Linked DNA regions of Homo sapiens: region 2 is linked to region 1. The links come from fine-mapping of genetic effects on gene expression. Tissue or cell type: whole blood. Region 1 holds a variant in brackets; the other region holds the start of a gene. All regions are shown on one strand. Distances are between the middles of the regions.

What was found. PIP is the estimated chance that this variant, and not a neighbour inherited with it, causes the effect.
Region 2: it holds the start of SPOUT1, and the variant in region 1 is fine-mapped to the expression of SPOUT1 in whole blood (TOPMed, PIP 0.98).

The regions. Positions count from the first base shown.
Region 1 is chr9:128,745,150-128,750,318 of GRCh38, forward strand. All of the region lies in intron 8 of ZER1 (zyg-11 related cell cycle regulator), which reads right to left. It overlaps LOC124902340 (small nucleolar RNA U13), which reads left to right and starts at 4,209; the gene lies at 4,209-4,312. The variant C/T (reference allele first, on the strand shown) is at 2,978.
Region 2 is chr9:128,827,024-128,832,144 of GRCh38, forward strand. SPOUT1 (SPOUT domain containing methyltransferase 1) reads right to left here and starts at 2,771. Exons shown (of 12, transcript NM_016390.4): 1 at 2,722-2,771; 2 at 2,087-2,132; 3 at 1,712-1,837; 4 at 9-168. The coding sequence starts at 2,757. KYAT1-SPOUT1 (KYAT1-SPOUT1 readthrough) reads right to left here. Exons shown (of 25, transcript NR_182311.1): 14 at 2,722-2,982; 15 at 2,087-2,132; 16 at 1,712-1,837; 17 at 9-168. RefSeq lists enhancers at 1,235-2,165, 2,963-3,022 and silencers at 2,503-2,682, 3,499-3,722.

The DNA of each region.
Region 1 (5,169 bases):
AGTTTTCTTTGTACTGTCTGCAGGTTTATTTGCTTATTGATTTGTTTGGGTTTTTTTTTTTTTTTTTTTGAGACAGTGTCTGATTCTGTTGCCCAGGCTGGACCATAGCTCATTGCAGCCTCAAAATCCTGGGCTGAAGCAATCCTCCTACTTCAGCCTCCTGAGTAGCTGGGACTACAGGCGCACATCACCACATCTGGCCAATTAAAAAAAAATTTTTTTTTTGAGATGGAGTCTCATTTACTCTTATCACCCAGGCTGGAGTGCAGTGGCATGATCCTGGCTCGCTGCAACCACCTTCCAGTGCAAGCGATTCTCCCGTCTCAGCCTCCCAAGTAGCTGGGATTACAGGCACCCACCATCATGCCTGGCTAATTTTTGTATTTTAGTAGAGACAGGGTTTCACCATGTTGGCCAGGCTGGTCTTGAACTCCTGACCTCAGATGATCCACCCGCCTCAGCCTCCCAAAGTGCTGGGATTATAGGTGTGAGCCACCTTGCCTGGCCTTTTATTTATTTTTAAGACGCGGTCTCTCTGTTGCCCAGCCTGGAGTACAGTGGTGCCATCATAGCTCACTGCAGCCTCGAACTCCTGGGCTCAAGAAATTTTTCACACCTCAGCTTCCAAGGTGGCTGGGATTTCTGGGTATGTGCCATCACACCCCGCCTTTTTTTCAGTTTAAATTTTATTTTATTTATTTATTTTTTGAGACAGAGTCTCACTTTGTCACCCAGGCTGGAGTGCACTGGCACCATCTTGGTTCACTGCAACCTCTACCTTCTGGGTTCAAGCAATCCTCCTGCCTCAGCCTCCCTAGTAGCTGGGATTACAGGCACACACCACCACGCCCGGCTAATTTTTGTATTTTTGGTAGAGATGGAGTTTCGCCATGTTGGCCAGGATGGTCCAGAACTCCTTGCCTCAAGTGATCCATCTGCCTCAGCCTCCCAAAGTGTGAGGATTACAGGCATGAGCCACTGTGCCCGGCCTTTTTCAAAAAAATTTTACAAGTGAGGATATATCTTTTTCCTCTAAGAACAGTTCTAATTGCAGAATGGCTAGGTCAAAAGATAGATGCATTTAGAATTTTGGCAGGTTCTGCTGGTTGCCCTTCACAAAGGTTGCACGATTCATCCCTTACCAGTAGACAGGGTGTGAGGGTGCTCTTCCCTATCTTTGCAACACTGGGTATCACCAAGCTCTTGAGATGAAATGTGACTTCCTCTTATTTTGATTTCCATTTCTGTGACAGATTTATTAATTCATTTGGGAGTCTCCAACTAGTCTTCTTTTTCTCTCTTCTTTTCCTTTTTTTTTTTTTTTTTTTTAAGACAGGGTCTCCTCTGTTGCCCAGGCTAGAGTGCAGTGGTAGAATCTTAGTTCACTGACTGCAGCCTCCACTTCCCAGGCTCAAGCAATCATCCCACCTCGGCCTCCGAGTAGCTGGGGCTACAGACGCATAGCACCACACCCAGCTAATTAAAAAAAAATTTTTTTTTTTTGAGACAGAGTTTCACTCTCGTCACCCAGGTTGGAGTGCAATGGTACCATCTCGGCTCACTGCAACCTCTGCCTCCTGGGTTCAAGAGATTCTCCTGCCTCAGCCTCCTGAGTAGCTGGGATTACAGGTGCCCACCGGCACACTCAGCTAATTTTTGTATTTTAAGTAGAGACCGGGTTTCACCATGTTGGCCAGGCTGGTCTTGAATTCCTGACCTCAGGTGATCCACCCACCTTGGCCTCCCAAAGTGCTGGGATTATAGGCATGAGCCACTGCGCCGGCCTAAAAAAATTTTTTTGTAGAGAAGGGGCAGGTGGGCAGGTCACTTGAGGCTAGGAGGAGTTCCAGACCAGCCTGGCCAACATGGTGAAATCTTGTCTCTATTAAAAATACAAAAATTAGCCAGGCGTGGTGGCATGCTCCTGTAGTCCCAGCTACTCAGGACACTGAGGCAGGAGAATCGCTTGAACCTGGGAGGTAGAGGTTGTAGTGAGCCGAGATCACACCACTACACTCCAGCCTGAGCAACAGAGACTCTGTCTCAAAAAAAAAGAAAAGAAAAAATATACACACACACATACTGCCCCTGAAATTCTACAACTCTACTTACAGAAATGTATTATAAGGATAACTAATTAAGTATAATTAACAAAGCATTGCTTGAGAGAGCAAAAGATGAAACAGCAACCTAAATTATTTGGCCCTGGGGGCTGTTTCACACACTGGGCAGAGCCTTGACCTTGGCCACTCCCTCCAAGCTCCAGCAGAGTCCTCCACACAGTGGCCTCTCCCTGGATGAGGACACTGAACATATGCTGGTGTCAGCAGTCATGAAAGTGAGCCTTAACACCAGCTGCATCTAGAGGAGGAGAGGTGAGATTGTAAGTGGCTTTCGCTCTATTTAATACATTCTTGTATCACTTGAATTTTTTCATCTTTTAAGCATTTAGGTATCTTTTTTTTGTTTTTGGTTTTGTTTTGACACAGAGTCTTGCTTCGTCACCCAGACTGGAGTGCAGTGGCACGATCTCAGCTCACTGAAATCTCCACCTCCCGAGTTTAAGCAATTCTCCTGCCTTAGCCTCCGGAGTGGAGTAGCTGGGACTACAGGCACCCGCCAGTATGCCCGGCTAATTTTTGTAGTTTTAGTAGAGATAGGGTTTCACCATGTTGGCCAGGCTGGTCTGGAACTCCTGATCTTAAGTGATCTGCCTTCCTCGGCCCTCCAAAGTGCTGAGATTACAGGTGAGGGCCACCACACCTGGCTTAAGCATTAGATATCTTTTGTAATCAGAAAAGAAACATTATTAAACAATTTTTGGGCCTAGTGCAATGGCTCATGCTTATAATCCCAGCACTTTGGGAAACCAAGGCAGGAGGATCACTTGAGCTAGGGGATAGCAAGGGCAACACAGCGAGACCCCGTCACCACATACACACAGACACACACAAATACAAATTAGCTGACTGTGGGC[C/T]GGGCATGGTGGCTCATGCCTATAATCCCAGCACTTTGGGAGGCCGACGCAGGCGGATCATGAGGTCAGGAGATTGAGACCATCCTGGCTAACACAGTGAAACCCCGTCTCCACTAAAAATACAAAAACTTAGCGTGGCAGGGTGGCGGGCGCCTGTAGTCCCAGCTACTCGGGAGGCTGAGGCAGAATAGCGTGAACCTGGGAGGTGGAGCTTGCAGTGAGCCGAGATCGTGCCACTTAACTCCAGCCTGGGTGACAGAGCGAGACTCTGTCTCAAAAAAAAAAAAAAAAAAATTAGTTGGGTGTGGTGGTACATGCCTTGTTGTCCCAGCTACTGGGGAGGCTGAGTTGGGAGGCTTGCTTGAGCCTGAGAGGTGGAGGCCACAGTGAGCTGTGATCATGCCGCTATACTCCAGCCTTGGCAACAAAGTGAGACCCTGTGTATTTGTTTTTGTTTTTCTTTGTGACAGAGTCTCCCTCTGTCACCCAGGCTGGAGTTCGGTGGCTTGATCTCAGCTCACTGCAACCTCTACCTCCTGGGTTCCAGCAATTCTCCTGCCTCAGCCTCCCAGGTAGCTGGGACTACAGGCGCCTGCCACCATGCCCAGCTAATTTGTGTATTTTTAGTAGAGACAGGGTTTCACCACGTTGGCCAGGCTGGTCTCGAACTCCTGACTTCAGGTGATCCGCCTGCCTCAGCCTCCCAAAGTGCTGGGATTACAGGTGTGAGCCACCGTGGCCAGCTAATTTTTGTATTTTTTAGTAGAGATGGGGTTTCGCCATGTTGGCCAGGCTGGTCTCAAACTCCTGACCTCATGATCTGCCTGCCTCAGCCTCCCAAAGTGCTGGGATTACAGGCGTGAGCCACCACGCCCAGCCTGAGACCCTGTCTTAATTAAAATATATATATATATATTGTGGCTGAGCACGGTGGCTCACGCCTGTAATCCCAGCACTTTGGGAGGCCGAGGCAGGTGGATCACCTGAGCTCAGGAGTTCGAGACCAGCCTGGCCAACATGGCGAAACCCTGTCTCTACTAAAAATACAAATATTAGCCTGGCATGGTGGCACGTGCCTGTAGTCCCAGCCACTAGGGGGGCTGAGGCAGGAGGATCACTTGAACTCAGGAGGCAGAGATTGCAGTGAGCCAAGATTGTGCACTGCACTCCAGCCTGGGCGACAGAGTAAGACTCCATCTCGAAAAAATAAATAAATAAAAATTATTGTTTGATCCTTTCGTAGTTTATAAGAGTGATGATTAGGTCTTCATGCTCATGTGTGAAATGTGCCTCCCTCAAACCATGTTAGGACGTTGGCATATTGCCCATCTGAAATGAAAAAAAGTTTTTGTTATATAAATATGTTGGCTGGGTGTGGTGGCACATGCTTGTAATCCCAGCACTTTGGGAGGCTGAGGCAGGTGGATCACCTGAGGTCAGGAGTTCAACACCAGACTGACCAACATGGCAAAACCCCGTCTCTACTAAAAATACATAAATTAGGCAGGTGTGGTGGCATGCACCTGTAGTCCCAGCTACTTGGGAGGCTGAGGCAGGAGAATCACTTGAACCCGCCACTGCTCTCCAGCTTGGGCAACAGAGCAAGACTCCATCTGAAAAAAAAATTTGTTGGCTGGCCAGGCGCAGTGGCTCACATCTGTAATCCCAGCACTTTGGGAGGCTGAGGCAGGTGGATCACCTGAGGTCAGGAGTTCGAGACCAGCCTGACCAATATGGTAAAATCCCATCTTTACTAAAAATACAAAATTAGCCGGGCATGGTGGCGCATGCCTGTAATCCCAGCTACTCGGGAGGCTGAGACAGGAGAATCACTTGAACCCGGGAGGTGGAAGTTGCAGTGACCCGAGATTGTGCCATTGCACTCCAGCCTGGGCAATAAGAGTGAAACTCCATCTCAAAAAAGAAAAAAATTGTTGGCGGATAAGGGAGATGTTCATATTCATGTGACAACACAGTTGAAGTAAAAATCCACCATATACAAACAGTATGCAGTTTGTGTATCCCATTTACAAAATATGTGTGCATAGGCTAAAATTCACAATTGATATCCCATGTTAATGGTGCCTGTCTCTGGGTAGTGGGTTTATGGGTGATTTTTATTTTCTGTATATCTGTAATTATAACTTTTCTATAATAAAGGCTTTTATTACTTTTATATTAAAAGCAGCTGT
Region 2 (5,121 bases), 82 kb after region 1:
CCCCTTACTTGGCATCCTGGCCCTCCTCATCAAACACCACGATCTCATCCACACAGAAGATGGCACAGGCTCTGGCAATCTGACCGGCCAAGTAGGTGCGAAGCTCCGGCGACTGAGCATTGTCCAGGATGGAGCCCGGCAGGGCTACGCTCAGTGTGTAGGGCCGCCCTGAGCAGGGGAGGGATGTTCCCAGCCAGTGTGAGAGGCAAGGGCCCCCTACCTTTCTCTCCCTTCCTCTGTCCCTAGCGCCCATGGTTTGAGAATTTCCCAAGTGGGAGGAATTTTGAGATGAGCAAAATAGATCCAGCTCCCCTCTCTGGGCCTCAGTCTCCCAGCAGTCTCCATGGCTCCTCTGAGCAGGGCAAACCACTGGGCGAGGCTGTGGAGCGGTTAGTAGCAATGGCCTAAGTTCACATCCTGGCTCTCCCACTTACTGCCTCAGTTCTCCAGCTATCAAATGGGGATAAAATGAAAGCTGATATCTAATAAGTCTTTAGTGTGTGCACATTAACCCGATAGCCATTAACCTGATCCCTAGTGAGGATACTGCCATTATCCCCATTTACAGACCAGGGGCCTTCAGCCCCGGGAAGTCAAATACATGGCCCAAGGTCACACAAAAGGTGGCTCATGCCTGTAATCCCAGCACTTTGGGAGGCCAAGGCGGGCGGATCACCTGAGTGAGGTCAGGAGTTCAAGACCAGCCTGGCCAACATGGCGAAACCCCGTCTCTACTAAAAATACAAAAATTAGCTGGGCATGGTGGCGCATGCCTGTAATCCCAGCTACTCCGGAGGCTGGGGCAGGAGAATCGATTGAACTGGGAAGTGGAGATTGCAGTGAGCGGAGATCGAGCCACTGCACTCCAGCCTGGGCAACAGAGCGAGACTGTGTCTCAAAAACAAACAAAAAAGCCCAAGAAGCACATAGATAACATGGTTTCACTGTTGTAACATTGTATCTGTACTTTGCTACACATGGATAAGTAGCTATAATTGTTTGGACAAGCTTTTGCTACAATGTTTGCTGGGATTGTTCCTGTCTTCTTTGTAGTTTTCTTTCATTTTTATTATGAAATCAAAATAATTGAAAAATGAAATTAAAGCACACAGAAAATGCTCAATAAAAAAGTCAAAAAATCAGGAAGATCATGAAGTTCTAGAGGTCTAAGTTAAGAGATATGAGGCTTGGGCCGGGCACGGTGGCTCATGCCTGTAATCCCAGCACTTTGGGAGGCTGAAGTGGGCAGATCACCTGAGGTCAGGAGTTCGAGACCGGCCTCCCCAACATGGTGCAACCACGTCTCTACTAAAAATACGAAAATTAGCCAGGTGTGGTGGCACACTTCTGTAATCCCAACTACTCGGGGGGCCGAGGGAGGAAAATTGCTTGAACTTGGGCAGTGGAGGTTGCAGTGAGCAGAGATGGCGCCGTTGCACTCCAGCCTGGGCAACAGAGCAAGACTCCATCTCAAAAAAAAAAAAAAAGAGAGATAAGGCTTGCCTTCCATAGGCTTGAAATTTACCTAAGCAGGAGGTCAGAACTCAGTTTGCTGGCTCCCTCCCTTCTCTGGGCCTCAGTTTCTCCATCAGGACAAGATGTTTGGACCTACTGGTCTGTAAAGGCCCTTTCAGATAAGACATCTCTGCTCTGCCTGCAGGACAACTACCGTGGGCCACAACCTGTGGCCCTCCCCAAGACCCCAGCTCACCGCGGTCCTCCTTCTCTGCCGCTGCCTCCTCCTCTTCCAGGCGCTTTGCCTGTTCCTCCTGTGCCCGCTGCCGCTCCAGTTTTTTCATCAGCTTGAGATCCTTCCATTTTTTTTTCTCCTCTTTCTCTGGATAAAAGAACATCCTAATTGGCCAAGGAGACAGTTCCCACTCATTGGGTCAGCCTGGACTCTGGAGAGCTGCTGGGTGAGCAGCCAGAGGGCAGCAAGGGAGCCTCCCCAGGGCTCCCGGCCCCTGCCTCCCCACTTTGTGTGCTGCAGGACCCAGAGGGAACAAAGTTGGTGTCTTTCTCCAGGGTTTGACTGAGCACTGGTGGAGTGGCCTATGGGAAGATACTCTTACCCACCCTTACTTACTCTGTTGCTTCCATTTTCGCCACTCAATCCTTTGGCCGTGTTCACCCTGGAGAAGGAGTGGTAGGAGGATTATGAGTGTGAGGCTGATGGTCACACCTGGAGGGGGTCCGTTTGCTGCACCATAGCCAGCCCCTCCACACGGGGCGGCAAGGAAGCCAAGGAACCTCTGCGAACTGCTGCCCCAGAAAGCGGCAGGAGGGCAGGGACCCGCTGTATCCCCAGCGCCTGGGACCCAGCCTGGCACACAGAAAGCACTCAAGAAACTGTCGAATGAGTTCCCACAAAACAGAAGAGAAAACTGAGGCTCAGGGTACAGCACTGCCCACAGTCGCCCTGGAAGTCAGAAAAGGGCTCCAGAAGCCACGAAAGGGCTCCGGATTCAGCATCCGGAGGCGAGCAGGGTCCCGCCTCCGTAATCCAGCGGGGGCCAGGGAGCCGCAGGGGGTTCCGGAGAGGACACGGGCGCTGTTCCCATCCTGCTGAGGCTCACGCGGCACCTTCGGGGGCTTCCGGCCTGGGATCAGCGGGAAGCAGGCAGCAGGAGGCGCGGCCCGGCCCCGGCGAAGGCCCCCACGCCACTGGTTCTCACGCCTCCACCATGCTGCCCTGCACGGGGTCCCGCCGCCCGCACTTACCGGGCCGCACGGCCGCTTCCTGCCGCGCTCCGCCATGTTCCGCACACACCGTCGGTCCCGCCTCTGCCAATGAGACTCGCCTCTTCCGGCCACACCTCCATTAAGCTGTCCAATCGGAGAGCCAATATCGCCCAGGGGCGTGGCCTGGGCGCCCGACGGGCTGCAGGGGTACGCGGGCTGGAGTAGGTTGGGCAGAGTAGGTGTCCAAATAGGCGGCATCGCGGGTACTGTGCTGAATTTTGGATGGCTCGGAGCCCCCCTCTGAGTTGGGACAAATACAACACTCAGACCTCTGAGTAGTTCACTTGTTTAAAAATAATTTTTTTTGAGACAGGGTCTCGCTATGTTGCCGAGGCTGGAGTGCAGTGGAGCAATTCTAGCTCACTGCAGGCTTGAGCTCCTGGGCTCAAGGGATCCTCCCACCTTAGCCTCCCGAGTAGCTGGAACCACAGGTGCGCAGCACCACGCCTAGCTCCTGGAAGGCTTTATACATGGGGACCCTGGGGCCTTGAGCTGTAGTGTGATTCAGAGCTGAAAATGAGATAATTTACTCCAGGTTTCTTATAGATTCGTTCACGTACTCTTTCTTTTTTTTGAGACAGAGTCTCGATTCATTGCCCAGGCTGGAGTGCAATGGCGCGATCTCGGCTCACTGCAACCTCCACCTCCTGGGTTCAAGCAATTCTCCTGCCTCAGCCTTTCAAGAAGCTGGGATTACAGGAGCGTGCCACCATGCCCAGCAAATTTTTTTGTGTGTGTTTTTAGTAGAGATGGTGTTGATGTTGGCCCCGTGTTGGCCAGCCTGGTTGAACTCCTGACCATAAGTGATCCTCCAGCCTCGGCCTCCCAAAGGGCTGGGATTACAGGCGTGACCCACTGCACCCGGCCTTTTTTTTTTTTTTTTTTTTTTTTTTTTTTTTTTTTTGAGACAGAGTTTCGCTTTTCTTGCCCAGGCTGGAGTGCAATGGCTCGATCTCAGCTCACAGGAACCTCCAACTCCTGGGTTCAAGCGATTCTCCTGCCTTAGCCTCCCGAGTAGCTGGGATTACAGGCATGCACCACCACGCCTGGCTGATTTTGTATTTTTAGTAGAGATGGAGTTTCTCTATGTTGGTCAGGCTGGTCTCGAACTCTTGACCTCAGGTGATCCGCCCACCTCGGCTTCCCAAAATGCTGGGATTACAGGCATGAGCCACCACGCCCGGCCTCGTTCTCTTTTAATTAACAGACTATATTAGTTGGGACTACAAGTGTGAGCCACCATGCCCGACTAATTTTTTTTTTTCTTTTTGTACAGATAGTGTCTCACTATGTTGCCAGGGCTGGTCTCAGACTCCAGGGTTCAAGCAATCCTCCCAACTTGGCTTCCCAAAGGGCTGAGATTATAGACTTGAGCCATTAATGCCTTTTATTTTTTGAGATCTAGTCTCACTCTGTTGCTCAGGCTGAAGTGCAGTGGCATGATCTCGGCTCACTGCAACCTCTGCCTCCCAGGTTCAAGCAATTCTCCTGCCTCAAGCTCCCAAGTAGCTGGGATTACAGGCGCCTGCCACCAAGCCCGGCTAATTTTTGTATTTTTAGTAGAGACGGGATTCTCCATGTTGGTCAGGTTGGTCTTGAACTCCCGACCTCAGGTGATCCACCCGCCTCGGCCTCCCAAAGTGCTGGAATTACAGGTGTCAGCCACCGTGCCCGGTCTCGAACTTAGATTTTTTTTTTTTTGAGACAGTCTCGCTCTGCTCTGTCGCCCAGGCTAGAGTGCAGTGGCGTGATCTCCGCTCACTGCAAGCTCCGCCTCCTGGGTTCATGCCATTCTCCTGCCTCAGCTTCCCGAGTAGCTGGGACTACAGGTGCCCGCCACTGCACCCGGCTAATTTTTTATATTTTTAGTAGAGACAGGGTTTCACCGTGTTAGCCAGGATGGTCTCGATCTCCTGACCTCGTGATCCACCCGCCTCGGCCTCCCAAAGTGCCGGGATTACAGGTGTGAGCCACCGTGCCTGGTCTCGAACTTAGATCTTATACTAAATTTGTTGTGATTTTTGACAGGTTTATTTTGTAGGCATGACTGATTAAGACATTGGCCATTTGAAAAAACAAACACAAAAATCCCCCCAAAACAACAATAACAAACAGACATGGACCATGTGATTGGGCTCAAAGTCTAGTCCCTCACACCTCCATGGAGGCAGAGATGGAGGGGGCCCGATGGGCTAAAAGTTCTGACCCCGTAATCGTACAGTGCAGAGGGATTCCATGTGACTAACAAGACATGCCTATCTTCCAGAAACTCCAAGGATTTTAGGAATTCTTTACTAAGGACCAGGGGCAAACACCAAATATGTATTTTATTATATGATATATTCCTATCAGCTCCCCCAGTTAAACATATGATATGAG